Regions from separate parts of the Homo sapiens genome. Here regions 1, 2, 3, 4 and 5 are each reported to be linked to region 6. Evidence: microRNA targets listed by miRTarBase, many of them from high-throughput screens and not tested one by one. Region 6 holds a microRNA gene; each other region holds the end of a gene's coding sequence. Distances are from middle to middle.
Evidence for each region. The annotated mature microRNA hsa-miR-6808-5p reads CAGGCAGGGAGGUGGGACCAUG and lies in region 6 at 1,494-1,515, opposite strand. An mRNA with a match to its seed (bases 2 to 7 or 8) in the 3' UTR can be bound and repressed. Matches are read on the target gene's strand: a 7mer-m8 pairs with bases 2 to 8, a 7mer-A1 pairs with bases 2 to 7 and ends in A, and an 8mer does both.

Region 1 (4,000 bases), not on the chromosome of region 6:
TGGAGCTTGCAGTGAGCCGAAATGGTGCCCCTGCCCTCCAGCCTGGGCAAGAGTGCGAGACTCCGTCTCAAAAAAAAAAAACAAAAAAAACCCAAAATACTATGAATTAAATTTATGACAGATACAAAAAGGACATCAGATTTCTTTGGGGGAAAGTCGCTTTTAAATTCTATATTTCCAAAAAAGATATTTTACATTTAGATACTTTTTTTTTTTTTGAGATTGAGTTTCACTCTTGTTGCCCAGGCTGCAGTGCAATGGCACAATCTCGGCTCACTGCAACCTCTGCCTCCTGGGTTCAAGCGATTCTCCTGCCTCAGCCTCCTGAGTAGCTAAGATTACAGGCACACACCACCATGCCCAGCTAATCTTTTGTATTTTTAGTAGAGACGAGGTTTCACCATGTTGGCCAGGCTGGTCTCAAACTCCTGACCTCAGGTGAACCCCCTCCTCGGCCTCCCAAAGTGCTGGGATTAAAGGCATGAGCCACTGCACCCAGCCCATTGAGATACTTTTTTACTCAGTTTTTTTCTAAGAATGGATTTTCCTCTTTATGAAAACAAAATATTCCTTTTCTTTATAAAACTTTATAGGCAAATTTATCAAGCTGGTAAATTCCATAACAGGCTGAACCAAATGAAATACCTAAGTAAAGCAAATTACATGATTAGAAGGCTAATTATGGTATTACTGCATAGGTTTAGTATTAATGCATATGTTCTAAGTTTATTGCAACTACACTAACTTCGTAATTTTAGATTTGCAGTTGCATCCTCCTAACTGCGTCTAATGGCAGAAGCACCACCTTGTGGCAAAAGTAGGAGCTTTTAAATTACAGAAGTTAGGGCTTGTTACCCAGAAAGGAGAAAACAATATAATGGGCATCCAGGACACTGCGCTATTTCTTGACCTGTAGAGGGATTCCATCAGTGCTCAATTTATAATTATTTATTCAACCATATGACTTTTCTGTATTTATTGTATTTCCTACTTTTAAAAGTTTGGGAAAAAAGTCTTTTACATACCTGAATTAAAGGTCACATTCCTAAATGCTTGAATTTTCTAAGCACCACTTATATTTTCAAGAATTTCCTAGAACTTCGAGGAATCTTTAACCTTGTAAATGCACTGTTGTATTTTTATGATAGGAAATAAAACACCAGAAAGACACTTATTCTTTGGTAAGTAACAGAAGAATTCCCTACAGATGTCTTCCTCTGAATGTTTTCATTCCTGCTCTCCCAAAGCCTCCAAGAGCAAATGCAGCTGCTTTCAAATCATCTGAAAGACTTCTACATTCCTATACCAACAGGTCTGAAAATTGTTAGAAACAAAAAACAAAACTCCCCTAAAACCAACAGATTTTGCAGGATCAATATAAAATATTAAGGATATATAGCACATTTAACTATGTAACAATATTCAATCAAAAAAAGGTTTCCCTGTCACGTTTTATTTACCATATTTTCAGGGCTTGATACATAGTATTCACAAAATGACCTGAATTAGCTGGAGAGATTTATCACCCTCTGTAACTGCTATGTCATCACTTTCCTTAGCGGTGAACTGAATCGCATTTAGTACCTCTTTTCACAGCCAAGAGCAATTTTTTTTTTTTTAAGGAAAAAAACTTTATTCCTTTTTTCCTAGGAACTTGTCAGGATACTTTAGTGACCATTCCCTCACTATAACTCTCACCCAGACCCACCTAACTGATGCATGAGAAGAGCCACTAGCTGATGTGGCCCACAGCTCAGACTGAGCCAGCATGGCTTGTGCAGGGGTAGGTAGCACAGCATCATCCAGACACTGCCTCCCCTGGTAGCTTCCATTACATCATGGACAGCACTGCTCTTCCCTGACTTAACCTTCTGCTTTGTTCAAATACTAGAAATATTAGATTTCAAGTTCAATAAAGATGTGGGCAGATCTGCCTAAGAATATTTCACAGGACAATGCCTTCCACTGAGTTAATGTTACTTGCTCAAATAACCCTTATGCTCAAGTTAGGTACAGAAAAAATATTTTTAAGAAAGTCAATAGAATGTTATATTGCAAGTTTTGACTTAGGCCTCTTCAAAAGTGCTATATGAGGCAGCCACTAACCAAGTGTCTGTCTCTTATAATTTGACACATTCCAGGTATGACTATTCTAATGGTCATGAGTATCACTGAGTCAAGTATTTGTTTCTACCTATGAAGAAATGTCGGGCCATTGTACTCCCAAGATGTATAACTTGAATTTTAAAGTAAAGCTGTCGCATAAAACTAGAAGAAGGAATAATCTCAGGGATCTTTTTACAGAGGATTATAAAGAATGGGATTATTTAACTTAAATCTGAAGATGTCTAATTCTTATTTCTCCCCGAAAACAAGTAAAAAATAGAAGCTTAACATGGGCTACTAAGATTTCTGGAATTGCCCATTCAGAAATGTATCACAGGAACCAAAGTTGAGATAAAATATTGTTAATGAGAAATCCTGGCATTGACATTCCACATTAAATATATTTCTATACTTTACTGTAAGGTTCAACTGACCACTCTACCTAAAACAAATTCTTCAATATTTTCAAGATGTAGTTTAAAACAATTTTTAACCCGTTTCCTCCTAGAACTAGGCACGCATATATGTATGAAAGAGAAGAAAAAGCAAAGGAGAAAGGAAGAGTGGGGAACGGGGGGGAGAGGGAGAGAGAGAGAGAGAGAGAGAGAGAGAGAACACCATTAAGGATACAGAATAATAAAGGAAATTACTACCACTTAATGGGAACACAATCTTTTGAAATCTTTGCTACAACTGGAATAAAAAACTCAGTAATTCTGAAAGGTTATTCTACTCTTTTAAATAAAAACATATCTGTTCAAACTATTAGGTACTTCTAATCATTTAGTCTTATAAGAAGCATTGGAAAAAAACATACATAGTAACAAACAGTGAATTTAGACATAGGTTCGCATAAATTGTTTTACTTTCAGAAAACCCAGAACCTCTAGGAAATTACTAAAATTATGAAGAAGTTAAATTTTATAAGCTCTTTCCCTCAACTTTGGCTAAATGTAACCATATTAAAATACTGACATAGTTTTTCATTATGAAATAGAAATGTAAAATGGTAGCTTTATTTTAATCTTTACTCAAGAGTGATATTGAAACAAAGCTCTTACTACAACAACCAGGTTAAAAAAACAAGGTGAATCAATGCTATTGTATGTCTGTGAACTAGAAATTTCTTACTTATGGAGTTATGCTCAGGAAACAATACTTAAAATCTTAAACTGTAAACTCTTAGCTTGTAACATTTTCATTTTTCCTGTATCTTGCATGTTTCTCAGTGCCATTAAATATATTATCTTCTATTTCTTCTTAAAGAACTAGTGTTCATAAAAGGATCATCATCATCATCCTGAAATGAGATACAAATGTTGTATTAGTGATTGTTCCCTGCTTCACTGAAACAAGACAGAAGTTCTTATGGGCAAAACAATACCAGTGAGAGTCATTTCACATGGGATAGACTTTATTTTTCTATTTCCTTTATAACTGCAAAATATATTAAGTACAATTAAATTCTTAATGAGCATTAAAATGAAAATTTATCCTGCTGTGTGTGCATGTATCTACAATATAAACCACACACATTTCCCTTACTAACCTTAATAAAGATAAATGAAGTATAGGTAAGCCAGAAAAATAATTCAAGTCATTTTATATTTGGTTTTTGAATATATTTTCTCATTTACATTTTATTACAGTTGTATCTACTCTTCTGGAAATTCACAGCGAAAAAATAATGAAGCCACATGGAGATCCAACTCAGAAACAGCTGTAATTTTATTTCCCATTACCATTTAATACTAGAAATAGCTAGCTACTCTCACACTTATGCAAAAAACAACCTAGCAAAGCAAGCTTTCAAATAGTTTTTTGGATAAAAAAAGAAATACATGCAGTTATTTCAAGAGTTCCCATGCTGGCCGGGCGCGGTGGCTCACGCCTG
Region 2 (5,389 bases), not on the chromosome of region 6:
TGAAACCCTCTCAGCTGGGAGTGGAGAATCCTGTGCAGGCCCGCCCAGAGGCAGAAGGGTTGGCCCCGAGTCACTCCATTCTCAGAATGCTGGATTTGAGGTACTGCCCACTACTCCCTTTGTTTTTCAAAAGTTGGGGTCTCGCTCTGTGACCCAAGCTGGACTGCAGTGGCACGCTCATAGCTTACTGTAGCCTTGAACTCCTGGGCTCAAGTGATCCTCCGACGTCAGCCTCCCAAGTAGCTGGGACTACAGGCGCGTGATACCATGGTCCGGCTCCGCTCCACTATGCCTTTAAAATAAGCTTCTGTGCCCTCCGTGACTCCATAGCCTCCCCCCGCCCACCCCTGTGATATTCTGGAACTAGGCACAGACGTGCTTAACTGGTGTTGTGGAGGGGACCCCTGGGGGTGTCACTGTGTCTGAAACAGGACTGTCCCAGGTAGCCCCTGACATACACTAGAGGAGACAGGCACAGGGCAGAAAATGGGAAGATTCTGGTATCTCAATCAAAGCCTGGGCACTGTCACTTACAGGCTGTAAGACATGGGCAAGGCTTTGTGCCTCAGTTTCTACTTCTGTTAAGTGGGAATAATACTCCCCAGGACCATCGTGAAGACTAAAGAAGCTGATGTGTGTGACAGCACCCAGGTGCCTGGTGCATAGTAGGCCCTCAGGAGCCATCATCTGCCCTTCTGCTTTCCTTTCTACCCCAAAAAGGCTGTGCCCTGAGCTCTGGATGACACACGTGAACATGGCCTTGAGTCAGGCAGTGTTGGTGAGGACTCTGACTTCTTTAGAGCTTTTCTACTCCAGCAGAGGACCATATCAATAAGTCCATAACAATAGATGCAGGCCAGGTGCAGTGACTCAAGCCTGTAATCCCAGCACTTTGGGAGGCAGGAGGATCACTTAAGCCCAGGAGTTTGAGACCAGCCTGGGCAACACAGGGAAACTCCATCTCTACAAAATAAAAAATGTTAAAAAACCTAGCTGGGCATGGTGGTGTACGCCTGTGGTCCCAACTACTCTGGAGGCTGAGGTGGGAGGATCACTTGGGCCCCAGAGGTTGAGGCTGCAGTGAACCATGATCGTGCCACTGCACTCCAGTCTGGACAACAGAGGAAGACCCTGTCTCAAGAAATAAAAATAATGGCCAGGCACAGTGGCTCGCTCATGCCTGTAATCCCAGCACTTTGGGAGGCTGAGGTGGGTGGATCACTTGAGGTCAGGGGTTCGAGACCAGCCTGGCCAACATGGTGAAAGCTCATCTCTATTAAAAATACAAAAATTATCCAGGCATGGTGGCATGTACCTGTAGTCCCAGCTACGTGGGAGGCTGAGGCTGGAGAATTGCTTGAACCTGGGAGGTGGAAGTTACACTGAGCCAAGATCGTGCCACTGCACTCCAGCCTGGGTGACAGAGCGAGGCTCCATCTCAAAAATAATAATGATAATGATAATAATAAAATGATAGATGCAGAGGTGACTGGGATCTATAAACGGGAGCTGTGTTGGGGAGCGGGGACACTCAGGCACTTGGGACAGGGACATTTGGTGGCATCTGGGTCTGGAGCAATGGCAAGCTGCTGTAGTAGGAAGGCTTCAAAAGCTCCAAACGGGGCCTCCAGATGCTGTGAGTCCTCTCCTAGGACGCCCCATGTGGGAGGCCCCATATGGGAAACACTGGGTGGGACCAAAAGACTCCAAAGTCCCTTCCAAGCTGGAGACTCAGCTCTACATCCTGAGCCCCGCCTCCCACAATGGACGAGGTGCTCCCTTGGAGCTGATTTCAGGTCGCCTGTCCTGGGGGCATTCCCACCTGAGCTCCTCTGTGGTTTGCAGAACTCACCCATACCATCACTGGCCCAAAGGGATGGGGTGCTATGGTCTGAATGTTTGTGTCCCCCCTAAATCCTAGGTTGACTTTTTTTTTTTTTTTTTTTTTTTTTTTTTGAGATGGAGTCTCACTCTGTAACCCAGGCTGGAGTGCAATGGCGCAATCTCGGCTTGCTGCAACCTCCGCCTCCTAGGTTCAAGCAATTCTCCTGCCTCAGGCTCCTCAGTAGCTAGGATTACAGGCATGCACCACCACGCCCAGCTAATTTTGTATTTTTAGTAGAGACAGGGTTTCACCATATTGGCCAGGCTGGTCTTGAACCCCTGACCTCCACTGATCCACCTGCCTCAGCCTCCCAAAATGCTGGGATTACAGGCGTGAGCCACCTCACCCAGCTCTAGGTGGAAATTCTAACCCCAAGGTGATAGTTTTAGGAAGCAGGGCCTTGGAAGGCGATGAGGTCATGAGGGTGGGGCCACATGAATGGGATTAGTGCCTTTATGAAAGGGGCCCAAGATGGCCCAGAGCAGTGGCTCATGCCTGTAATCCCAAGCACCTTGGGAGGCCAAGCAGGTGGGAGGATCACTTGAGGCCAGGAGTTTGAGGCCAGCCTGGGCAACAAGGTGAAATTCCCCATGTCTACAAAAAAAAAAAAGGAGGGGCAAGAGAGCTTGCTAGTCCCTTTCACCCTGTGAGGACACAGTGAAAAGAGCCATCTGTGAAGCAGGCCCTCACCAGACACCGCTTCTGCCAGCACCTTGATCTATGAGAAATGAATCTGCGGTTTCTGAGCCACCCAATGTGTGGTATTTTGTTACAGCAGCTCAAATGGACTGAGACGAGCAGGGCCCTCAGGCCATGGTGGTTTATTGATGCACGTCGCAAGCACAGCACAGGCAGGCGGACCCCAGCCCCGGGGGGACATGAGGGCCAGGGGAGGGCAGTGGGCCACCCCCACAGCAATGCTGTCAGCACAGGGGGAAGGAAAGGGCCTGGGCCATGTTCTCTCCTTCTCCACACCTCTCCCCAAGCCTCCAGGCCTCCTGACTCATCCCAGAGAGACAGCTGGCCACACAACTGCCCCTGGCTACAGATAGGTGACCGTTGTCCACCTGTCCCTCACCGAGGTATGGCCTTGCCGGCCCGCTGCTGCTTCCGTCCTTCATCACGAAAATCCAGCTGCTCATCCATCATCTCTGTCACCTCTGAGAAAGTCACTGTGAGGCTGCACTCTCCTCTGCCTGATGTCACCTCCATCATCCCCCAAACAGCCGGCTGCTGCTGTCAGCCCCTCCCACAGGCTCTCTGTTTGCTTTGTTGATTGTAGGGAGTCCACCCTCGTGACCTGTGTGACAGTAGGAATGAGGCAAAAACACAAGGAGGCCCGGGAAGGACTTCACCAAGAACTCCCCGGGGAGGGGCTCCCGGCCAGCAGGGTGGCAGGAGAGCAGACAGAGCCAGTGGGGAGGGGAGAGGCGGAGCAGCAGAGGGTCCACAGTCCAGGTCACGCATGGGCACAGTACAGTCATGGCACCATGGCAGAGCGAGTGAGCAAAGTGCACAGCTGGGCGGGGTGCCGGGGCCCGCGGGACAGCTTACAGGTCTCACGTTCCATGCCAGGCCCCAGCAGAGCATGAGGCGGCCCACTCCCAGCTGAGGAAGGGGCACCTCTGGGTCTCAGGGGTCTCCTCCCCCTCCTCAACCCCAGTGGCTGCTGTCTCAGACCCCTGCACTCTAAGCAAGGAGAAGGTATGCTGGGGTATGGAAGGAAGGAACATCCGACAGCCTGACGCCCCCAGTGCCAAGAGAAGAAAGAGAGTTCCTTTCTAGAGAGCAGGGGGAGTGTCCCGGTGGGCAGGTGGAGAAGGAGGGACAGCTCTCCCATGCAGGAAGAGGGTTCTTTGGGGCAAGGAGCAGCCAGGGAGTCACGGTGGTGCAGGAGACTATTTATAGAAGGAAGGGATCCAGGCCTGGAGTGGGAAGCCCCAGAGACCCAGCTCAGCAGGGAGGGGGCATTCTGTGGTTGGCCCTGAGTGGGGTGAGTGGGACTAAGAAAGATCGCCCCACAGCTCTCTGCATCTCTTCTGGAGGCAGCCAAGCTACCCATGGGCTTTGGCCCAGAGGGGCTTCCCTGGGAGAGCCCAGGAGGTGGGCAGGTCTTTGGGAGATAGAGACCTGGACGAGGCAAAGAACAGTAGGACAAGGAAACCAGAGGAAAGGGGAAGTTCTCCAGAAGTCCAGCCCAGCTGCCAACTACAGAGGCTGAGAAGCCTTTCCATGTCCACCAGGCTGGGTGTGGGCCACACTTACCAAGAGGACCACCGTCTGTTGCCTCCAATGCCAAGGGGCGAGGGGAGGGCAGCTGGGCAGAGTGGAGGGAGCAGGGGGGCAGGAGAGAGAAAGCCAGCTCCCTGAACCTGGGCTACCCACCTCCACCTTCCGCTCATCTCTCCCTCGCCCCCCAGCTCCCCAGGAGTCCCTAGCGGCCCACGCTGATGTTGCAGGTCTTGCAGCTGGGGTCCTTCTTGGCATCGGCAGTAGACAGACTCATGAGCTGGTGCCCACTGATCTCCCCCAGGGTGCCCAGGGACAGGTCGACGGGCTCAGTGTAGATGATCTCCAGGATGAGGTCCTGGGCGTGGCGGAAGACCAGCTCCCCATCCTCCACGCTGCAGGTCAGGAACTTGTTGCAAGCAATGTCCAGGAGGGGCAGGCGGTCGCGGCAGAAGCGGTCCCCCAGGGAGCCTTTGGGCGCCAGCACCAGGATGGCGTAGTGGTAGGCCGTGTACATGCAGTAGAAGTCCGCAAAGTAGAGGTTGGTGCTGGGATTGAAGAGGCGCTGAGCTGGGATCTGGAAGCGCCAGCGGCCGTAGGGGGAGTCCTGCGGGGGCTGGCCCGTGTTGAACTCCGTGTTGCAGCTGAAGAAGACCCCGTGGAGCATACCGCTGGTGGGGGAGCCGTGGCTGCCACTGTTGTCCTTCAGGTAAGGCTGCAGCATGTTCCCGCAGTGGGTCCTGCCCACCCCAGGGAGACACACCAAAGGGAAGAGAAGATGTGGCTGGTGAGCCGGGCTGAGGCTTGGCTGCTGCGTGTGGTCGAGGAGGGAGGAAGCCAGCCCAGCTCCCAGCCCTCCCCCAGCCGCCTCCACTAGTCGCAAATAGAACATTCCAGAATGCAAGAGCAGGGAGGGCCCTGGAGAGGGATTCAACCAGCCCACTCCTTCTCAGAGAAGAGATATGAAGCTGTCACTCCCCAGCTTGAAACCCTTTGATGGGGTGTGTGTGAAAAACACGGCGGCTCATGATCTGATCTCTGTGGTCTCCTTGCCACTCCCCACCTCCTGCCACCCCATCCACTTACCCACCCCCTGCACACACAGTCTCCTGCCTCCGTGACCCCTATGCAGGACTCTTCCCTCTGCTGCACTGACTGCCCTCTCCACCTTCCTCCGTCTGGCTTGGCAAACTTCTAATTAGCCTTCAAGCTTCAGTCAAGCGTCTGCTCCCCTCTAAAACCTCCCAGGAACAGCAGACACCTGCACTTGACAAA
Region 3 (5,237 bases), not on the chromosome of region 6:
TCCGATTCTAGCCTGGAGTTGCTGCTCCACCCCTTGGACCACCAGACTAGAGCCTCAACCAGGGGTGATTTTGCTGCCAGGTGACATCAGGCAACATCTGGAGACATTTTTGGTTGTTACACTGAGGAGGGGGGAGATGAGGAAACAGCATAAATTGTTTAGAGGCTAGGGATGCTGCGAAACATCCTACAATGCACAAGACTACTCCCCACGATAAAGAATTATCCAACCCAAATTGTCAACGTGCCAAGGTTAAGAAACCCTGATCCTTTGGAAGTTACCTCCTCTTCTCTGTGACCCCTACCCTGATCAGTTTCCTCTGTTCCCTAGGGAGCAGTTGCTCACTCTTGTCCTCTGGAGACAAACCAGAGGCTGTCATGGTAATCGGGAAAGGTCTGCTAGGGACTGGAGCTCGGATGCCCTGCATCAAGACTCGATTGCAGGTAATATTTTTGGGTCTCCAGCATAGCTACTCTGGCAGAACCCAGCAAGGCACTGTTCCTCTGGGTAGTGGGAGGGAAAATGCTCAGCACTGCTTTACTGCATCTACCCTTGGCCACATCAGAGAGCTTCTCTGGTGCCTGAGTGCCTGTCTGTCCAGTCCCCTTCCTGCCCTCCACCATCCCCATCAGCCAGGTCATTTGCTTGCTTTCAACCTGTGTCCCTGCCAGATATACCCCAACCTTAGCCTGCTAGCTTTGGCTTTCCCTGCCCCTGCCCTTAGCTTCTCCTCTCTTTCTGCCCAGACCTGTCCGAGGAGAGTTTCCGCCAGGAGGGGTCCCGGATTCCCCAGGTAACACATTTGGTTGCTGCTGCTAGGAACAGCCCTGCCACCAACTCCGATTCAGTCCAGATCCCCATGCTAGGTAAAGCTGAGTATAGGCAGAGGCTGACTGGATGGGTGAAGTGTACACTGCTCTGGCAGGGGCTAAAGCATAGAGGGCTCTGAGAGAGGTCTACCAACCCTCCACTATCTTTCTACACAGTGTTTCTCTACTCACCCAGACCTTAGTCATGGTGTAGCCATGGCGGTTAAATGCTGGATCCGTTTGCCACCCCTAGTTATAGACTTGGAGTGCATAGTCATGGACTGAATCCAGGACTTCTCTGGCTATTATCTTGCCTCACCCTCTCAGCTAGAATTCAATGTCCCAGTACCTCTACTGATCCCTATACTACAACACTCTTATGCATGGAAACTCTAGAAGCAAACTAAAAGCAAAAAACTCATGGAAGAATCCAGCCTCTTAGCGCAAACCCTGTCCACACAGGCTAGGCCCAGGTTGGGCCGGGGCTCACCGCCGACTCGCAGAGGGATGAAAGGCTCTTCAGGCCCCACATCCCCTACCCCCCGGACCAGGGAGAGCAGTGAGCTGGAGCTGGGATCCTGCTCTGCTACACCAGGGTGAGCACTTGGGTCCAGTCCCTCACACCACCCCTCACTTCTGTCCCCTCATTCCCATTTCTGTCATTCAGAATAATTTTCTGCTTCCCTACTCCTTTTGAGCACAAAGACTAAATGTACTTCCATTAAGAATCTAGTCCCTGATTTTTTTTTCCCCCACCATGGCCAAGTCTTCAATCCAAAGCAAAAGAAAACAACTTTTAGTCAGGGCCTAAGGTCTAGGAGCTGGCTGGTTCCAGCGTCAAACCACTGTGCAGTAACCAACTTGCCCATCCTTACCCATCTTCATCTCGCTCCACTTCTTTCACTTCCCAGCCCCTGGTTAGCAGAACAGAAGAGGAGGAGAGTTTTCACAGCCCTGATTCCTCTCTCTTTTCTGTTGCAGGCTGCCTCAGGCCAGGCCCCCACGGCCCCGCTCTGCCCCTGCCTTTTCTCCTATATCCTGTAGTCTATCTGACTCCCCATCCTGGAATTGTTACAGCAGGGGTCCCTTGGGCCAACCTGAGGTTTGTTTTGTCCCTAAATCTCCCCCACTGACTGTTTCTCCCCGGGTCTGATAATGCCTTTATGTTCAAGCCCAGGATATAGCCCCAAGATGGGGTAACAGTGGGAAATATGCTAGTTCCCCTCCAGGCCGCTGATTCCATGTGACAGCCGTTAAGTCCTTGGAATGCCAGCCACGCTGTCCAAGGCATTACAGAGTATCACCTTGAGACAGAACAAAACAGGGACCTGCCACCCCTTCCCTCCCTCCGCAGCACAAGATTTTGGGACCACAAAAAAAAGTCTATATTTTTATATTGGGGGGAGGGAGTAGAAAAGCAAGCCCCTATACTGGGCCCTATTCAGTGGCAGCTTCTTGTTCCATAGGATTAAGGAAGACTCTGAGGAAATAAAAGTTGTTTGGAAAAATCCAGGTGTAGTTGCTTTGTATGTTGTGATGGGTAGAAGGGATGAAGTGAAGTGTGAAGGCCCCTCATACCCTCCATCTTGCCTCAGACTATGTCCTGGAACCCTAGAAAAGAGGGGGAAAGACCTGAGGTAAGGAAAATGCTGCAGCTTTCCTCTGGGGAATCCTTCAGGAAGTAACGCCCATCCATGTTCCCTTTATACTTGTGACCCACACTTAAGGCTGGCTCCAAAGCCCCCCCTTCCTTCTCTATAGTTTGGGTCAGCAGCCAACCCCTGGCCTCAGAACATGGAAACAGAATTCTACATCTGTCACCCCCCTCACCAAAAAAAATCTGCCCAAATAAGGCCTAAACAACCTGGGGAAAATGAGGGCTATTTAAGAGCCCAAATCCTCATACTTGGATGGTTCCCTCGGTACCTTCGTTCCTACCGGTGTCAGTGCCTCCTTACAACTATACTCCCAACTTGGGCATCTACCTACTGGAGACTGTGAGGGTTAGGCAACCCACTCCCATTCTAGCAGGGAACAGGTTACGGGGAGAGGACAGCGCGCTCTCTCTCTACTCTGTGCAGACAAAGGGGCCCAGTTCTGGACTGTATCATGCTTGGCCCGACACTTTCTGATTGTAAGTTTCGAACCCTGCTAGCCCTGGCGCGGCCTCGCCACTCAGCTCTGGGGACTGGGCGCTACAGCCCCGGGCCGTTACCTGGGGCGGAGAAAGCGCCACTTTCATTCCTGCTTCTTGGGATTGTTGACGGCCACGTAGTGATAGAGAACGACAAGCAAGAAGAGCGACACGCCCAGCATGTTGGCGAAGATGGCGAGCTGCACGTCCGTGATCATCCTGCGGAGAAGAGAGGGGCTGAGCTGCGGGCTGGCGCACTCCTCGCCCTCGCAAGAACCCGTCCTCGCCCCACGGGCCAGCCACGGCCACGGCCACGGCGGGGCTGGCCCGTGGGACGGCCCCTGCGTGCCTCTGACCTGACCAGTCCGGCTCGGCTCCGACGCCACCAGCGAACAAGCCCGAAGTCAGAGACCTGGACCGGAACTTCGTAGCGCCAGCTCAGGCCCGAACAAGCCGCTTCCGGCGGGGGGCGCGGTCGGGACGGCCTCTCTAGCCCCGCCGTCTCGTCGGCTCCGCGCGGCGCGTTACGGCCGCGGCTGGGGCGGGGCCTCGGGCGCGGCTGCGGTGGGAGGTCCAGCCGTAGGGGGTGGGGCGGGGCTGCGGACGCGCGCCTGGGCCCGGCACCGCACAGCTGGCTGCAGCTGGCGTGGCTCGGGACGCGGCTAGCGAAGCCGTGGTGGCCGCCTCCCCGGAGCCGAGGAGTGGGCTGGGGCGAGGGTGCAGCGGCGGGGCCGGCGGGATACTCCAACCCCCTTCCGGCCCCGGCCCTCAGTACTGCTGCCCACCCTTCGCTTCCCGGCCCGGCCCAACCAGGTGCTTCCTTTGGGTCCTGCCCTCAGTGCCCTCTCCCTGGCCCGGACGGCGGGGACAGGGGTAGGAGGCGTTGTAGAATGGGGACAGGGCTGGTGCTGCCGGGTGCTCCTTTCTCCGGCGCCATCCTTTGTGACCCACATGCAACCAAGTAGAACCATCCTGCCTTTTGTGATCTGACCAGGTTCTGTCTTAGCCGGGCTCCCTCCCTCCACCCTACCCCCCGGAGGTGGGCGTCGGAAATAGGGCGGACCCTCCCGGAATCAAAACCCAAACCGTGGGACTTCGGCCAAGTGGGAAATCACCCCCCGGATGTGGGGGAGGGAGAAGGGGAGGAATGGAGAAGAGGAGGAAGGGCTGGGACAAGCAAGAGGGGTCCTGGGTTCAGGACAGATTAGGTCGCCGAAGAGAACGAAGAGCGGTGGCTGCGGGTAGCCGAGGGTCTCTGGCGAGGGGAGAGGCACCCTGGAACTCTCCAAGCCTCTGCCCAAGCCAGAGCTTTCTCCCCCCTCACTCCATGCTTTCTCTCAGCTTCACCATAAAAGGGAACGGCACTGAGCCAGGCCGGGGCCGGGGGCTGGGCTGTTGCTCTGGAGCTGTCAGGGGTAATGGAAGCCAGTTGCTTTGCGGTAGAGGGGGGCCAGGGCTCAGGGGAGGCCTCTGCTTCTCGGAGCCAAAGAAAACTCTACAGGAGATGCTATGGGCTTGGGACAGGGGACCAGTTTCCCGCCTGTGTGCACTGAGCTGGGGATGCACTATCCCAAAGTAGCCTTCCCGGGCCTGGGACCATCAACAGCTTGTCACCCAAGGGCTTCAGCCCCGTGGCTTCTAAACATAATCCCTGCCTTTAGTAGTCTGTAGTTCCCGTGGCCTCCCCGCACCTCACCACCAGCCCCCACTCAATATTTCCCAGAAGCTTGATATTTAGAAAGCCGAGTCCCCTCCACACAACACTGGTGAAACCCCAGACAGGTACTCCCTTATGCATCCCTCAGTAAGCGGTCTGTTTCCAGCTCCTCTCTGGGAGAGTAAGGGTCTAGGTCTTAAGGATTACACGTCATTATGCTTCATGTCTCCTGGAAATTTGAAGCAGATCCAAGTCCAACCAAACACTTAGGTCTACTGTTGAATCAGAACTAGCCCTCCCTTTTAAAAATAAGCTCTACCTTTAGGCCAGCCCTGGAAGTTAAACTTTCTAGACTGAAAATGACAGGAAAGCAAGCCTTGAAAGTGCTTAAAACCAATTGACCCAGGTGCATAGTATCCTAGACTATCAGAGCCGAAAGGGGCCTTCAAAATCATCTTATGAAGAAAGAAACTGGCCAGGCATGGTGGCTCATACCTGTAATCCTGACATTTTGGGAAGCCAAGGCGGGAGGATCACCTGAGGTCAGGAGTTCGAGACCAGCCTGGCCAATATAGTGAAACCCCATCTCTACTAAAAATACAAAACTTAGCTGGTGGTGCATGCCTGTAATCCCAGC
Region 4 (5,389 bases), not on the chromosome of region 6:
TTGGTAACAATTGTTGGAAAATAGATTATAGGTACTAAGACTGTCAAACAGCACCAGAAGGTCCTTTCCTCTCAAAAATCTTTCCCCTGTGTAATCTACATGTTGGAGCTGTCCTTGAGTTAATAAATTACTCATGGGATATAAATATTCTCTGATACTAAATAGCCTTCATTCCTAATGACATTTGCTTTGTATGGTCATTAGTTCTTTTTGCTAGTTGATCTTGCAGAGAAGGGAATTTTCAGAGGAAATACCGAAAGTGAGGGTGACTCAGGAGTCTGTAGCTGTTCTGACCTATCGTGAAATAAAATATAGGCCCTTTAGTGATAATCCTGAGTTATCCTCTCTGGACTTTCTTCGGGGCTTTTGAATCTCAGAAAGTAAGCTCCATGTTGTCTTCTCCACCAATCTGTTTCAGTCCAGCCTTTCTAGTTCATATCAGTTAATCCATCTAATCAGTATGCCATCTCCCCAGCCAATCAGTATGCCATGGTGACAGGGAAGAGGTAAAAGTAATATAACAATTGTTAGCCCTTGTGGGGTGATAGATTGGACTCATCTGAAATTATCTTCCCTTGAATTCTCTATAATCCCTCTTCAGTTTTTGTATGGATCCTAGCATCATTGATGATAAACCTATACTTTGGGGAAGTTAAAGGTCTCCAGTGTACTGAGGCCAAGTAGAATGTCTCAAATCATAAATGATGTTATTATTTTTACAGAAAGTATCTTTCAGAGAATCAATGCTGCCTTGCCTTATTTAACCCCCCCCACACACACAAAATTTATTACTTCCTTAAGTAAGTCATTTTTGTGATTCATCTTCTACTCATACTTAGTTTGGTTTAAAATATATTTATCTAACAAGTATGTTATGTGCCAAGAACCTTACCATAATCAATGGTAAAATCCAAAGGCTCTGAGAACTTATTAGAAAAGGTGAAAAAAGGCATGAAAAATGCTGGTGTTGGTTCCCTGCTTCACAAATCAAACCATTAACATGGTTTTAACTAACTTTCGAAAACAATGGAAATCAGCTTTGTTTGTGCTCTTTCTTTTAGATTTTCTGCATTTATTTGAAAAAAACATGATTCCAGAGAGGACTGTAGAGTTCCAACATATCATCCCCATATCTGCAGTTACTGGAGAAGGAATCGAAGAATTAAAGAATTGTATAAGAAAGTCACTGGATGAACAGGCCAACCAGGAAAATGATGCACTTCATAAGAAACAGTTGCTTAATTTGTGGATTTCTGATACAATGTCTTCTACTGAGCCACCATCAAAGCATGCTGTTACTACTTCCAAAATGGATATAATTTAAATATATTAAAAATGGTATTGATGGAACAGTATTTAATGCTTAAAAACAAGGAAATCCTTTCATCTGTGACAACCTGGAGGACATGTTAAGTAAAATAAGCCAGGCTTAGAAAGACAAATGCTGCATAATCTCACTGTGGAATCTTAAGTTGAACTCATAGAAGGAGAGAATAGAATGGTGGTTATCAAGGGCTGGTGGGGCAGTGGAGGATTGAGGAGATATTGGTCAAAATTTACAAAATTTCAGTTAGACAAGGCAACTGAGTTCAAGAGATCTGTTGTACAGCTTGGTGACTGTAATTAACAACAATGTATTTTGAAAGTCACTGAGTAAATTTTAAGTGGTTTTTCCAAAAAAGCACATAAGGTAATGCACGTTAATTAGCTATATTGAGCCATTCCACAATGTATAGATATTTCAAAACATGTTACACATGATAAATCCAGTTTTTCTACGTCATTTTTTAAAATTATATTTAATTTTTTTATTTTGAAAGTTTTTTCACAGATCTTTTTTTTAGTATTATTACCTTCTGATATATGTGTCATTATTGAAGAACCATACCTTTTAAAGTTATTATTTTGTAATTAAGTATGTCAACAGTAAAAAATAACCAGTGGCCAGGCATGGTGGCTCATGCCTGTAATCCCAGCACTTTTCGGAGGCCGAGGAGGGCAGATCACTTGAGGTCAGGAGTTCAAGACCAGCCTGGCCAACATGGCGAAACCCCGTCTCTACTAAAAATATAAAAAATTAGCCAGGCATAGTGGCGCATGCCTGTTGTAGCCCCAGCTACTCAAGAGGCTGAGGCAGGAGAATTGCTTGAACGCGGGAGGTGGAGGATACAATGAACCCGAGGTCGCGCCACTGCACTTCAGCCTGGGTGACAGAGCTAGACTCCATCTCAAAAAAAAAAAAGAGCTAAAAAATTACATTTTACAAGTTTATGGCCAGCCCACCTGTAATAACATTCTCTGATATTCCTTTACTTAGGATGTCCCTATTGAGATCATTTTTTAAATTTATGTGGAAGGATTCTCTAGATTATTATTAGAATGAGCAATTCAGTTTTGTTTGTTTTTGAGCCTGTCTTGTACCTGGTTGCACTAAATATATAATAGTTATCTTTTGTGGAGACCTTAAAACCCTAAATTTGAATACATGTTCAATGATAGTAAAGATATGACAGAAACTAGAAGATAGCTGTTTATGATTTGAGCTTTTGGAAAATTTTCGTTTCTTGAATGTAATAGTATTTTTTCCTGAATTGGAGGAGACTGATCTATATTGTTTCATTTTTCTTTTGTCCTAGTCTATTTCACTTTCTTTTGTCATAATCTATTTAATTTCCCACTTTCTTATTTTAGTAAAGAGAGAATAAATAGCAAGTGCAGGCCAGGCATGGTGGTGCAGGCCAGACATAGCGGTACATGCCTGTAATCCTAGCACTTTGGGATGCCAAGGCGGGAGGATTGCTTGAGCCCAGGAGTTCATGCCTGAGCAACATAGCAAGACCCTGGCTCTCTATAAAACAGAAAACGCAAACTTTAATATTATCAACAATCAATATATTATAAGAGATTGCAATTTCTAAGTTTCTACCTGAGTGTTTCACAAATACAAACTGGACATTTTCCCTTTAAATGAGTTTTATTATAAAATGTACATATTGATTGTAAAAACAAAAAATTCAAATAGTACAAAAGCATATAAGTAACTAATAAAAGCTCCCTTTCTGCATTAGGCCCCTCAGTTCTTCCCAGGGAAAATGATTAATAGTTTACATTCTTGCAGAAATTTTTTATGTATAAATTTTTACCCAAATGAATTCATTATATAAATTTTTTCCAACTTAGTGTTTTTTTACATAATAGTAGCAAGTTAAAAAATTGTACTTCAGGCCAGGCACGGTGGGTCACGCCTGTTAATCTCAGCACTTTGGGAGGCTGAGGCAGGAAGACCACTTGAGGTCAGGAGTTCAAGACCAGCCTGGCCAACATGGTGAAAACCCATCTCTACTAAAATACAAAAATCAGCTGGGCATGGTGGCGCATGTCTGTAATCCCAGCTACTCGGGAGGCTGAGGCAGGAGAATCGCTTGAACCCGGGAGGCGGAGGTTGCAGTGAGCTGAGATTGCGCCATTGCACTCCAGCCTGGAGGACAAGAGGGAGACTTCCTCTCAAAAAACAAAATATTGTACTTCAAAAAATTATTCTTCAATGCTATTTTTAAATTACTAGAAATTATTTTGGAATTTAATGTTGCATACAGCCTGAGATATGGCTGTTCACCCTTTGGTAAAGTATTAAAGAAAAATAATGCATTGTTCTCAGCTTAAATTTTTTTCTGATTTGACAACATGAGTGATGTTTTCCCAGTATTATTTCAATTATATTTGTTTTATTTTCTGTTCCTCACTCCTACCTCTCATTCCAGTCCCCAAACTGGCTTTTCTTTTATTTCTTTTTTCTTCATTGCTGATGTATTTATTGAGCAATGTCCTGTATCAGGCACTGTCCAAGGTGCTGTATGTGCCATGTTGAAGAGAACAGACAGGACCTACTGTCCTTGTATATCTTGCCTTTGATAACAGAAACTGCAGGGGATTGGAATAGCCTCTTTACAAGAAAAGAATAAGAGTGAGGAAAAGCGTTTGGAATTTATAGTGATCACAGTGACCAGGTTTTGTATTGGGTATGTTTTACATTTGTAACTTCAGTGCTATTTTTTTTTAAGCTCCATTGTTTTCTAAATGTAAACAAGTATCAATGTAAGGACAGTTTCATCAGGTGAATATCAGAAGTACTGACACCATAATCTCATTTTGCACTGTGGCAAAGGGTAGTAGATGTGTGTTCAGGATTATTTGCTCTGTCAGTAGTGCCCAGGGTGCCACTCCATGACTAACCGAAACATTTTATTATGTGACTCACTAAGATGTTCAATTCATTAGTATTTTCTGGTTACTCAAAGTGTACTCTATGTACCTTTTTTTGACCTTTGATTTTTATTCTGATGGAGAAGATCAGATTCCTTTTTTATCTTATAAAAAATAATTTTGAAACAAAGACTTATTTTGAAGTAAGTCTTTTAACATTATCTCAGATGCATTTTATTTTGTCCTTAAGTAAGACTTTTCATTTTTACCTTTCAAAATGCAATTTTCAAAATATATGCTTTTTTGAAACACTTATTATGTTACTGAATAACCAGAGTATTAAATTCAATGTACAGCAAATTTTTACAAAGTCCCAGTAGTTCTTGCAGAGCTTTCTATAATATCAGATTTATTTACCATCATGAAATATGTTTATACAGTATTAAGTATATTGTACTATGAAGTTGGACCTGCACACTGAAAAATTCCAAAATACCTATTATGTTGTGCTTTTTGTGATATATATTCATATTATTATTTGTCATAACAAGGTGAACTTTTTTAAAATGGTAAACATGTATTAGTTACATAATCAGGAAAAAAGTCATCTTTTATAATGAGAAAAATTAGGTCAAGGATATTTCAGGTTTTATCCAATTAGATTTCTTGTAAAGTTATGTGTTTTCTTTTATCTCAGTGCTTATTTGCTTTGCAAGGATGAAGGTTAGAGATTCCTTTCAGTAGTTAATGAAAGCTACAGACTTGTCTTGCCGAAAAATGTACATAAACACATAAACTATTTTCCAAGCAGTTTCACAGTGTTTGCAAAGTTCAGATTGAAAACCCAGTTTTACAAATCCCATCTACAAATTTGCATTGTCATTAAGATATATTAAAAATAATTTTTCAAAGCAACAGCACAGATGCACTTTAAAACTGTAGCTTAAAAATAAAAATTAGTAATATAACTTGTGTAAACCTACACAAAAGATAAAAGATATCTTATTGCAAAAATAGGGCAACATTTTGTTTTAAAGACCAAATAGTGAATTGAATTTAATGCATATCTTTAAATCCTTAATAGTATCTCAAATCTGGTTTAAATCTGTCTCTCCTTAACGGAATAGAAAGTGAAACAAATCCAGAAATCTTGTTCGAGTACATGGTCTGTGCTAGTAATCATATC
Region 5 (5,389 bases), 220 Mb from region 6:
AGTAGCTGGGATTACAGGCATGTGCCACCATGCCTGGCTAATTTTTGTATTTTTAGGAGAGACAGGGTTTCACCATATTGGTCAGGCTGGTCTTGAACTCCTGACCTCAAGTGATCCACCCACCTCAGCCTCCCAAAGTGCTGGGATTACAGGCGTGAGACACCACGCCCGGCTTAGCCAGGCGTTACTGTGCAAACCTGTAGTCTCAGCTACTTGGGGGGGCTGAGGCAGGAGAATTGCTTAAGCCCAGGAGGTCAAGGCTGCAGTGAGCTATAAGCACACCACTGCACTCCAGCCTGGGTGACAGAGCGAGACCCTGTCTCAAAAACAAAACAAAACAAAAAAATCACTCTGGAGATGACGTGATAAATGGATGAGAGAGAGATAGATGGGTTACAGTGTAGGCAGAAAGATTAGTCAAGACACTGCAGGGATCTAGGGAAGAAATAACGGGGTATAAGGGTATAAACTAATGTAATTAATGTAGAGTCAAGAGTAATGGAGAGAGGATTTAGACTCCTACATATCTCACTTACATAAATTGGGTTTTCGTATAGGAACCTGAAGAAAATACCTTCAAAGTTATTTTCGGCCGGGTGTGGTGGCTCACACCTGTAATCCCAGCACTTTGGGAGGCTGAGGAAGGTGGATCACCTGAGGTCAGGAGTTCAAGACCAGCCTGGCCAACATGGTGAAACCCCTGTCTCTACTAAAGATACAAAAAATTAGCCAGGTGTGGTGGTGTGCCCCTGCTACTCGGGAGGCTGAAGCAGGAGAACCACTTGAACCCGGGAGGCAGAGGTTGTAGTGAGCTGAAATCATGCCATTGCACTCCAGCCTGGGTGACAGAGTGAGACTCCATCTCAAAAAAAAAAAAAAAAAAAAAAAAGTTATTATCTTAGGGCTGGGCGCAGTGGCTCACACCTATAATCCCAACACTTTGGGAGGCCAAGGCAGGCGGATCACCTGAGGTCAGGAGTTCGAGACCAGCCTGGCCAACATGGTGAAACCCCATCTTTACTAAAAATACAAAAATTACCTGGGCGTGGTGGCACATGCCTGTAATCCCAGCTACTCAGGAGGCTGAGGCAGGAGAATCGCTTGAACCCGTGAGGCGGAGGCTGCAGTGAGCCAAGATTGCGCCCCTGCACTCCAGCCTGGCGACAGAGCGAGACTCCGTCTCAAGAAATATATAAATAAATAAAAATAAAGTTATTCTCTTGTTACACTTAGATTTTTTAAAAATTAGGTTTAGTCCACTATTTACAGATAGAGAACTCCATTCGTAGAGGGAAGCAGGTGGATTCAGGTGATGATTTTCTAACTTGGCCAATTATCAAGATCACCTCATGGGTTTGTAAAATAATTTCTGGAGGGGTCGGGGCAAGAGTGAAGAACTGTTTAGACATAATCATTCAGACATCTCTGTAAGGCATCTAGGTAGGTTTTGGGGTATATAGATCTAGAGTTTGAGAGTTCTAAGCTAAAGATTTTGGATTAATGAGCAAAAGCGCCACAAAAGTCACACAGGTGGATTAGATCCTCTGGTGAGAAAGGAGAGAAAGCATAGTCCAGGTGCAGTGGCTCACACCTATAATCCCAGCACATTGGGAGACAGAGGCAGGAGGATTGCTTGAGGCTAGGAGTTCAAGACCAGCCTGGGCTGTATAGCAAGACCCCATCTCTACCAAAAAAAGAAAAAAAAGAAAGGAGAGAGACTAGAACAGAATCTTGGTAAACAGTGACATTTAAGGGAAGGAAGACAAAGAGAAAGCAATAAAGGAGACTGAGTAGGAGTGGCTAGGTGAAAAAAGAAAGCCAGGACAATGAGAAGAGACTTACAGGAGGGAGGGCTCAAAGGTGTCAAGACCACAGAGACCTCTTCCTGCTAGATTATGACACTTCTATAAAATAATACTATATTACCTTATCTAGTGAGTCCTAGAGTTAAATGATTATCAGTCCCTGAATTTCTTAAAATATACAGAAGCAGGCTGAGCGTGGTGGCTCACATTTGTAATCCCAGGACTTTGGGAGGCCAAGGTGGGCAGATTATGAGGTCAGAAGATCGAGACCATCCTGGCTAACACAGCGAAACCCCGTCTCTACTAAAAATACAAAAAATTAGCCAGGGGTGGTGGCATGTGCCTGTAGTCCCAGCTACTCAGGAGGCTGAGGCAGGAGAATCGCTTGAGCCCGGGAGGTGGAGGTTGCAGTGAGCCGAGATTGCACCACTGCACTCTGGCCTGGGTGACAGAGAGTGACTCTGTCTCAAAATAAATAAATAAATAAGTAAATAAACACACACACACACACACACACACACACACACACACAAGCAAAATCGTTGGGATAAACCCTGTGAATTTTTATTTTTATTGTTTGAGACAGAGTCTCGCTTTGTTGCCCAGGCTGGAGTGCAGTGGCACGATCTCAGCTCACTGCAACCTCTGCCTCCCAGGTTCAAGTGATCCTCCTGCCTCAGCCCCCTGGTAGCTGGGATTACAGGCACACACCACCATGCCCGGCTAATTTTCGTATTTTTAGGAGAGACAGGGTTTCGCCATGTTGGCCAGGCTGGTCTCGAACTCCTGACCTCAGGCGATCCACCCGCCTCGGCCTCCCAAAGTGCTGTGATTACAGGCATGAGCCACTGCGCCTGGCCTGTGAATCTGCATTTTAAAAGAATCTTCCTAGGTGATTCTGATATGCAGTTGAGTTTGGGAACTGTTAATTTAAACCACTTGTTGATTTGAAAACAGATAATTTTAATTAAAAGCAATGGACAGAGACCTAAAAATAAAAATCTAGGTATATTAGCAGAATAATTTTAATAGTTTATGTTATAATCTCTCATTGGAAGGAATAGAAGCAAGTACTTAGCTTTCCACAATTAAGCCTTATAATGATGCCACAAGAATAAACTAATCCCCAAAGTCGAGAATGTATAATTTTCAAACACTTTTTTAAAAAGCTGGTGAATAACAAAGAGCTAGGATTAAATAATTTATTTAAAAAAAACTTTTCTCATAAATCTGTTTCATAAGCATATATAATAACATCATATATATTCTTAATTGGAGTAGAAACGTTTTTAAAATTACTGTGAAAAACAAGAGTGAGATTCCAGAAAAAATTGTGCCCTAAAGAAATCTGGTTTAGGCCAGGTGCGGTGGCTCACACCTGTAATCCCAGCACTTTGGGAGTCCGAGGCAGACAGATCACGATGTCAGGAGATCAAGACCATCCTGGCTAACACGGTGAAACACCTTCTCTACTAAAAATACAAAAAATTAGCCAGGCGTGGTGGCGGTGCCTGCAGTCCCAGCTACTCGGGAGGCTGAGGCAGGAGAATGGCATGAACCCGGGAGGCGGAGCTTGCAGTGAGCCGAGATCACGCCACTACATTCTAGCCTAGGCTACAGAGCGAGACTCCGTCTCAGGAAAAAAAAAGAGAAATCTGGTTTAGAAGATAGGAATGTTCATTGAACATTGACCTGAACTGTCAATTGGAACTAAAGCTTTTTCTCATTTCTCCACCTAAATACAGGAAAACAAATATAACATATTGAGTTTATAAGTTCTCCAGACGTCAAAATTGGTCTGGTTGATTAATCAAGTTAAATTATTTAATTCTATTTTCTATTCCTAAATATAATAACTAAATATAAATCACTGCTCAACAATGAATAAAGGTGGAACTCTAATTCTACCCAATTAATCTTAAAATGTATTATTTTGAGAACCAAGTCTTTCTCCTAGCTAAGTAAATGAAACTTTAAGTACTTTTTGGGTTTTTGTTTTTTTTTTTTCTGAGACAGGGCTTAACTCCTGTCACTCAGGCTGGAGTGCAGTGGCACGATCTCAGCTCACTGCAACCTCTGCCTTCCGGGCTCAAGAGATTCTTCTGCTTCAGCCTCTCAAGTAGCTGGGATGACAGGCGCATGACAGGATGCCCAGTTAATTTGTATTTTTGTAGAGATGGGGTCTCACGATATTGCCCAGGCTGGTCTCAAACTCCTGAGCTCAAGTGATCCACCTGCCTCGGCCTCCCAAAGTGCTGGGATTACAGGCATGAGCCACCGCGCCCGGCCAAATGAAACTTTCCTTTAAGGAACAAGTGCATTTTTAATAGATTCTGGAACTCGGCTTGCATAGTAGTCATAATTCCTCAGTGTGGCCAGGACTCCTGCAGAGTTCATATGCTTCACATCCTTGTGGTACTGAAGAACATTCCCATGGATATCGGTTAACTTGCCTATAGAAAAACATCAATCAATCAATCAAGTTAGTGGCTAATTGGATTGTGGTTTTTCTAGTTATTTTTAAGTGCCTTTTGCTTCCTTATCCAATAGTAGCCAATAAATTCTGGATGAAATAATGAGTGTCCATAAAGGTTAAGTTTTAATTCACTTGAAATTTAAGACTACAGAACAATTTTAACTAACTAAAGGATATAAAATTATTTTTTCTCTGATTAATATTAATTTTATTTAGCATTTTCTTTTCTTTTTTTTTTTTTTTTTTTTTTTTGAGATGGAGTCTTGCCCAGGCTGGAGTGCAATGGCACAATCTCAGTTACTACAACCTCGGTTCACTACAAGCCCAGGAGTTCAAGGGTGCAGTGAGCCATGATTGCACCACTGCATTCCAGCCTAGACAATAGCGACCCTGTGTCAAAAAAAAAAAAAGGCTATAAATAAGGGCTAAATTAAATTAACTGTATGCAGATCAAAGTTCAAAAAAAGAGACGATAACTAAAGTAAAACTTGCTGAAAATCTGCTCTCTCATCCATCTATCATATGAGGGGTTTGGACTGGATAATCTCTAAGCTGCCTTCTAGCTTTTATATCGTAACAGTCTAAGTAAAATAATATTACTGAGATATTATGTCTTAGCATGATATAATTGTAGAAAAACTATGAATTTCCTCAAATAAAACAGACTAACCTCCCACAGCATGTAAAATAACTTCTGGAGCACAAGTATCCCACTTCTTACAACCAGGACTTGCAAATACATAAGCAGAGGCTTTGCCTTCAATCAGCTGAATAATCTGTAAGGGTAAAAATAAGAATTATCCTTTGATAATAGAAAGAATAATTGAAAGTCATGAAAAGATTGAGGTACAGATAAGAAAAACTGCTTGTTTCTATCAAGGACATTTAATCAGTTCCTCTGTTAAATTTAGTTAAAGCTTTTAGCAGGTTTAAATTATACCAGTATTATGAAGAAATACATAGAATAAATGCATAATAATATAGTGATATGAAGGAAAAATAATGGTCAAAAAAGCTACAAAGAGGATATCTGAACTGTCTCCATATTCCAAGTTACATAAAGTAACATGTTCCTTTTATTCACGTTGTTTTTCTTTTTTAGTGTAAA
Region 6 (4,061 bases):
GGGGGAGGGTAGGTGAGGGCCGCGGAGGGGCCTCCGGCGTTCCCCTCCCCCCCGCCCTGAAGCCCGAAGCCCCCACTCACTGCTGCAGAGATCCCCGAAGACGTAGTAGCACTGCTCGGAGAAGGTGATCTTGTTGACCGTGTGCCGCAGGAAGCCGTGCTTCAGCAAGCTGCTGGCGTACTTCCGGGCCTCCCGCCGCTCCTTGAAGCCCTCCACGTGTGTGTACAGCCAGTCCACCACGTCCGCCCCTGGCCGGCACCAGCGGTCAGCCCGCAGCCTCGAGGCAAGCAGCCCTGCCCCTGGCACTATCCGCCCGCGGGGACGGCCACTCACCGATGACGGCATTGGCGATGGTGATCTTGAGCCACATGCGGTCGCGGATCTCCAGTCCCGAGTCTGGCAGCTGCATGACCCGGACGACGGCGCTCATGTCACTCTTCACCGTCAGCGGCGCCTCTTCCAGCTCTGCAAAGCACAGACAGCCCCGCTTCAGCCCCAGCATCTGAAGGCGGGGGACTCAGGGCCCTGCACCCCCAGGGGAGCCTCTGGGCAGAGCCTGCGCCAGGGCGCAAGCTGGACGGTGCGTGACAGCAGGGCCCCGGCCCACTGCAGGATGCACCCCCGTGAGGCTGGGGCGTGAGCAGGGGGGTTGGACATTTAGTCTCCCACTTCTACAGACACTTTTCATCAGGATCCTAGGCACAAACTGGGCTGACACCCCACCCTGCAGACCAGGAAGTAATGAGAACAGGGCAGGCCCCTTCCCCTCCCCGCATGCCCCACCCGAGAGCGCAGGCTGTTAGTCGTGTTAATGGCAGGAAGCAGAATGGAGACCTGGCCCCTGCCTCTGACGCCGTGGGTGCTCCCCGCATAGGGGCCCTACGTACATCCCCTGTTCCCAACACACAGACCATGAGCAGGATGGGCTGCACAAGGTGGGCACGGGTGCCTGTGCACACGTCTGTGCAGGGAGTTGGGGACAGGCAACACACACGTGTCACAGCCCCATGACGGCCACAGGCGGCCATGCTGGAGGCTGGCAGAGACGCCCCCTCCAAGCCTCGGTTTCTGCTGGGGCCCTCAGGAGCTGCCACTTACGTGGAGCACCAGGCACGGAGCTGGTTAGTGAGGAGGAGCTGGTGCGCGTGACGGCGCTGGAGCAGGGACTCGTACCGTAGCGGGGCAGGGCTCCTGTCAGTGCCGCCGTGTGGGACAGCCAGGCGGCGGGGTCGATGGGCCGCACCGGGTCAGCTGGGTGGCCGCCACGTGGCGATGACAGGCGGACAGATGGACAGGGTGGGAGGGCAGGGTGCAGGGCACAGAGGAGAGAGGCCTTCAGGCTAGGTAGGCGCCCCCTCCCCATCCCGCCCCGTGTGCCCCGAGGGCCACTCACCCCGTGGGACGGTGAAGTAGCTTCGGGGCGTTGGGTCCCAGCACTTGGCCACAGTGAGGCTGATGGGCCTGCAGGAACGGTGGTCACACAGCAAGGCCCCCATGGTCCCACCTCCCTGCCTGGCCCCTCCCGCTCCAGCGCCCCCAGCCCTCACCCCGTCTGGGAAACGATCTCCCGCAGCACCCGCACGGCATCGTCATTGCTCATGTTCTCAAAGTTCACGTCATTCACCTGCAGGGGTGGGGATTAGGGTGGTGCAGGCAGGATGTGCAGCTCAGTCCACCGCCCCCGCAGACCCACCCACAGCCGCATGTCCCCCAGCAGCCCCCGCAGACCCACCCGCAGCCGCATGTCCCCCAGCAGCCCCTACAGACCCACCCGCAGCCGCACGTCACCCCAAAGTCCCCACGGACCCACCCGCAGCTACATGTCACCCCGCAGCCCCCACAGACACACCTGCAGCAACATGTCGCCGGGCTCGATGCGGCCGTCAGCGGCCACAGCCCCGCCCTTCATGATGGAGCCAATGTAGATGCCGCCGTCTCCACGGTCGTTGCTCTGCCCCACGATGCTGATGCCCAGAAAGTGATGTCTTTCTGCAGGAAGAGCCATGAGCCGCGGCCAAGCCCCTGCCCCTGCCCCCAACCCTCGCCCCGAGGCCTCACCCATGTTGAGCGTGACAGTGACGATGTTGAGGGACATGGTGGAGTCGGTTATGCTGCTGAAGGAGGAGGCCTATGGAGGAGAGGGGGCGTGTGTAAAAGGCACGGGGCTGCCCGACACTGACTTCGCCTCCCCAGCCCCGCCCTGCTCCACCCGGCTGCCTACCCGGTCCGCCTGCCGAAGGCGCTGCTTCCTCCGCCGGCGTTTGTGCTTCCGGATGAGTCTGGATGAGGTGCTCTGCTCCGTGGAGCTGCTGAGCCTGGGAACAGACTGTCAGAGCTCAGAGGAGCTGGAGACATGGGTAGGGGGGTGGGAACCCGCTCCCCCAATACTGAGTGGGAATCGGGGGTCTAGGCCAGGCTTGTTCCAAAGCAGGCTCAGTGCCTGACGTCCACGCCCCAGGCCCTGCACACGTGATATGCATATGAGCACACACGAAAATCCCAGAGACAGGCAAACTGGGCACAGACACATGTAGCCAGATCCACTACTGACACACCTGCACACATGCACACCTGCACACACATGCACACCTGCACACACGCACCCCTGCACAAGGCACACATGCACACACCTGCACACACACCTGCACACACGCAACCCTGCACACATGCACCCCTGCGCACAGGCACACATGCACACCCCTGCACACGCACGCATGAACACACGCACACCTGCACACGCATGCACACCTGCACACACGCACCCCTGCACACTACACACCTGCACAGGCACACATGCACACCTGCATACTCACCTGCACACGCACCCCTGCACAATGCACCCCTGCACACACGCACCCCTGCACACACATGCACACCTGCACACACGCACCCCTGCACACAGGCACACCTGCACACACCTGCACACGCACGCCTGCACATGCACACCTGCACGCACACCTTCACATACACCTGTACAAGCACACCTGCACACACGCACATCTGCACACGCACACCTGCACACACGCACACGCACACATGCACACACCTGCGCACACGCGTGCATTGTGAAAACGCTCACGTGCACACTGTGAAAACGCACCTCACACACACATACATGCACACACAGACATGCGCATCATGTACATAAACGTTTGCACACAGGTACATGCACAGACACATCCGCAATGTGAAAACGCCTCACACAGACACACATGCACAAGCAGACACGTGCATCATGTACACGTTTGCACGCGGGCACACACACAGGCGCGCACACACGTGCACAGTGAAAACACCTCATGTGGAACACGTGCACAAGCACACGTGCATCATGTACACAGACATTTGCAGGCACACACATGCACACACACGCACACACGTGCAATGTGAAAACACCTCATGCAGACACATGCACATCATGTACAGACATTTGCAAGTGGGCACACAGGCATACACGCCCACAGACACTCCCACACACCTGCTCGTGCTGCCATCCTCGTCCGAGTCCACAAAGCTGCTGGACTCAAGCTCGCTGCTGAGGGCGGTGGACGCGCTGTCTGGGGGCAGCCCCACATCCCGCCGTCGGTCTCCCCTTGGGTGCCCATTGGTCCGGGCGGCTGTGGGGGCAGCAGGTTGGGAACTGACTGCAGGGTCTCCCAGAGGTCATGGGTTTGGGGCTGCCTGGGCAGTGCTGCATGCCTGTGGGTCTGGGAGCTGGCAGCTCAACTGTAGGCTCGCTGGGCCTGTGCCTCCACCCAAGCACCGCCACTGGCTGGGGGACAGGAACTGCTGTAGTAGGAACATGGCTCATGGGGGTCCCAGGGAGGCTGGGGGTCCACAGCTGGGCAGACATGACCACTGTACCCTCCTCGCGGTTCCGGCGTCGGGCACGCTCCCGCCGGTGACTGACCATGGACTCCGTGCCTGTCTCGTTGTCCATCCCGTCACGGCTGCTGGCCACATTTGGGCTGTGCAACAAGAGCAGGGTGGGTGGGGAGGCCGTGGCCCCAGCCCCTCAGATGCCGCCCAGCCCAGCCTCCCCTCGCCTGTGGGACCCCAGC

Region 1: the mRNA of MRE11 is a reported target of hsa-miR-6808-5p. The part of its 3' UTR that is shown has no 7-base or 8-base seed match.
Region 2: miRTarBase lists PHYHIP as a target of hsa-miR-6808-5p. Seed matches in the 3' UTR shown: 7mer-m8 at 2,735-2,741.
Region 3: miRTarBase lists AGBL5 as a target of hsa-miR-6808-5p. The part of its 3' UTR that is shown has no 7-base or 8-base seed match.
Region 4: the mRNA of GTPBP10 is a reported target of hsa-miR-6808-5p. The part of its 3' UTR that is shown has no 7-base or 8-base seed match.
Region 5: the mRNA of BPNT1 is a reported target of hsa-miR-6808-5p. Seed matches in the 3' UTR shown: 7mer-m8 at 3,344-3,350.

The regions. Positions count from the first base shown.
Region 1 is chr11:94,416,776-94,420,775 of GRCh38, forward strand. It overlaps MRE11 (MRE11 double strand break repair nuclease), which reads right to left. Exons shown (of 20, transcript NM_005591.4): 20 at 1-3,406. The coding sequence ends at 3,350. Among named protein-coding and RNA genes, the nearest start is that of GPR83, 17 kb to the left of the region's middle.
Region 2 is chr8:22,217,034-22,222,422 of GRCh38, forward strand. It overlaps PHYHIP (phytanoyl-CoA 2-hydroxylase interacting protein), which reads right to left. Exons shown (of 5, transcript NM_014759.5): 5 at 2,670-4,854. The coding sequence ends at 4,320. Among named protein-coding and RNA genes, the nearest start is that of PHYHIP, 12 kb to the right of the region's middle. RefSeq lists an enhancer at 2,981-3,681.
Region 3 is chr2:27,068,302-27,073,538 of GRCh38, forward strand. It overlaps AGBL5 (AGBL carboxypeptidase 5), which reads left to right. Exons shown (of 15, transcript NM_021831.6): 13 at 331-443; 14 at 1,272-1,405; 15 at 1,791-2,317. The coding sequence ends at 1,962. OST4 (oligosaccharyltransferase complex subunit 4, non-catalytic) reads right to left here and starts at 3,353. Exons shown (of 3, transcript NM_001134693.2): 1 at 3,300-3,353; 2 at 3,025-3,162; 3 at 2,171-2,420. The coding sequence starts at 3,161. The coding sequence ends at 3,048. RefSeq lists enhancers at 2,832-3,071, 4,502-4,561 and a silencer at 3,122-3,821.
Region 4 is chr7:90,383,831-90,389,219 of GRCh38, forward strand. It overlaps GTPBP10 (GTP binding protein 10), which reads left to right. Exons shown (of 10, transcript NM_033107.4): 10 at 1,062-5,389. The coding sequence ends at 1,324. Among named protein-coding and RNA genes, the nearest start is that of CLDN12, 17 kb to the right of the region's middle.
Region 5 is chr1:220,054,735-220,060,123 of GRCh38, forward strand. It overlaps BPNT1 (3'(2'), 5'-bisphosphate nucleotidase 1), which reads right to left. Exons shown (of 9, transcript NM_006085.6): 8 at 4,952-5,057; 9 at 2,748-4,258. The coding sequence ends at 4,110. Among named protein-coding and RNA genes, the nearest start is that of EPRS1, 11 kb to the left of the region's middle. RefSeq lists an enhancer at 5,058-5,227.
Region 6 is chr1:1,338,189-1,342,249 of GRCh38, forward strand. It overlaps MIR6808 (microRNA 6808), which reads right to left and starts at 1,520; the gene lies at 1,462-1,520. DVL1 (dishevelled segment polarity protein 1) reads right to left here. Exons shown (of 15, transcript NM_001330311.2): 4 at 3,865-3,968; 5 at 3,479-3,617; 6 at 2,222-2,315; 7 at 2,059-2,128; 8 at 1,850-1,989; 9 at 1,548-1,624; 10 at 1,394-1,461; 11 at 1,099-1,251; 12 at 334-465; 13 at 81-248.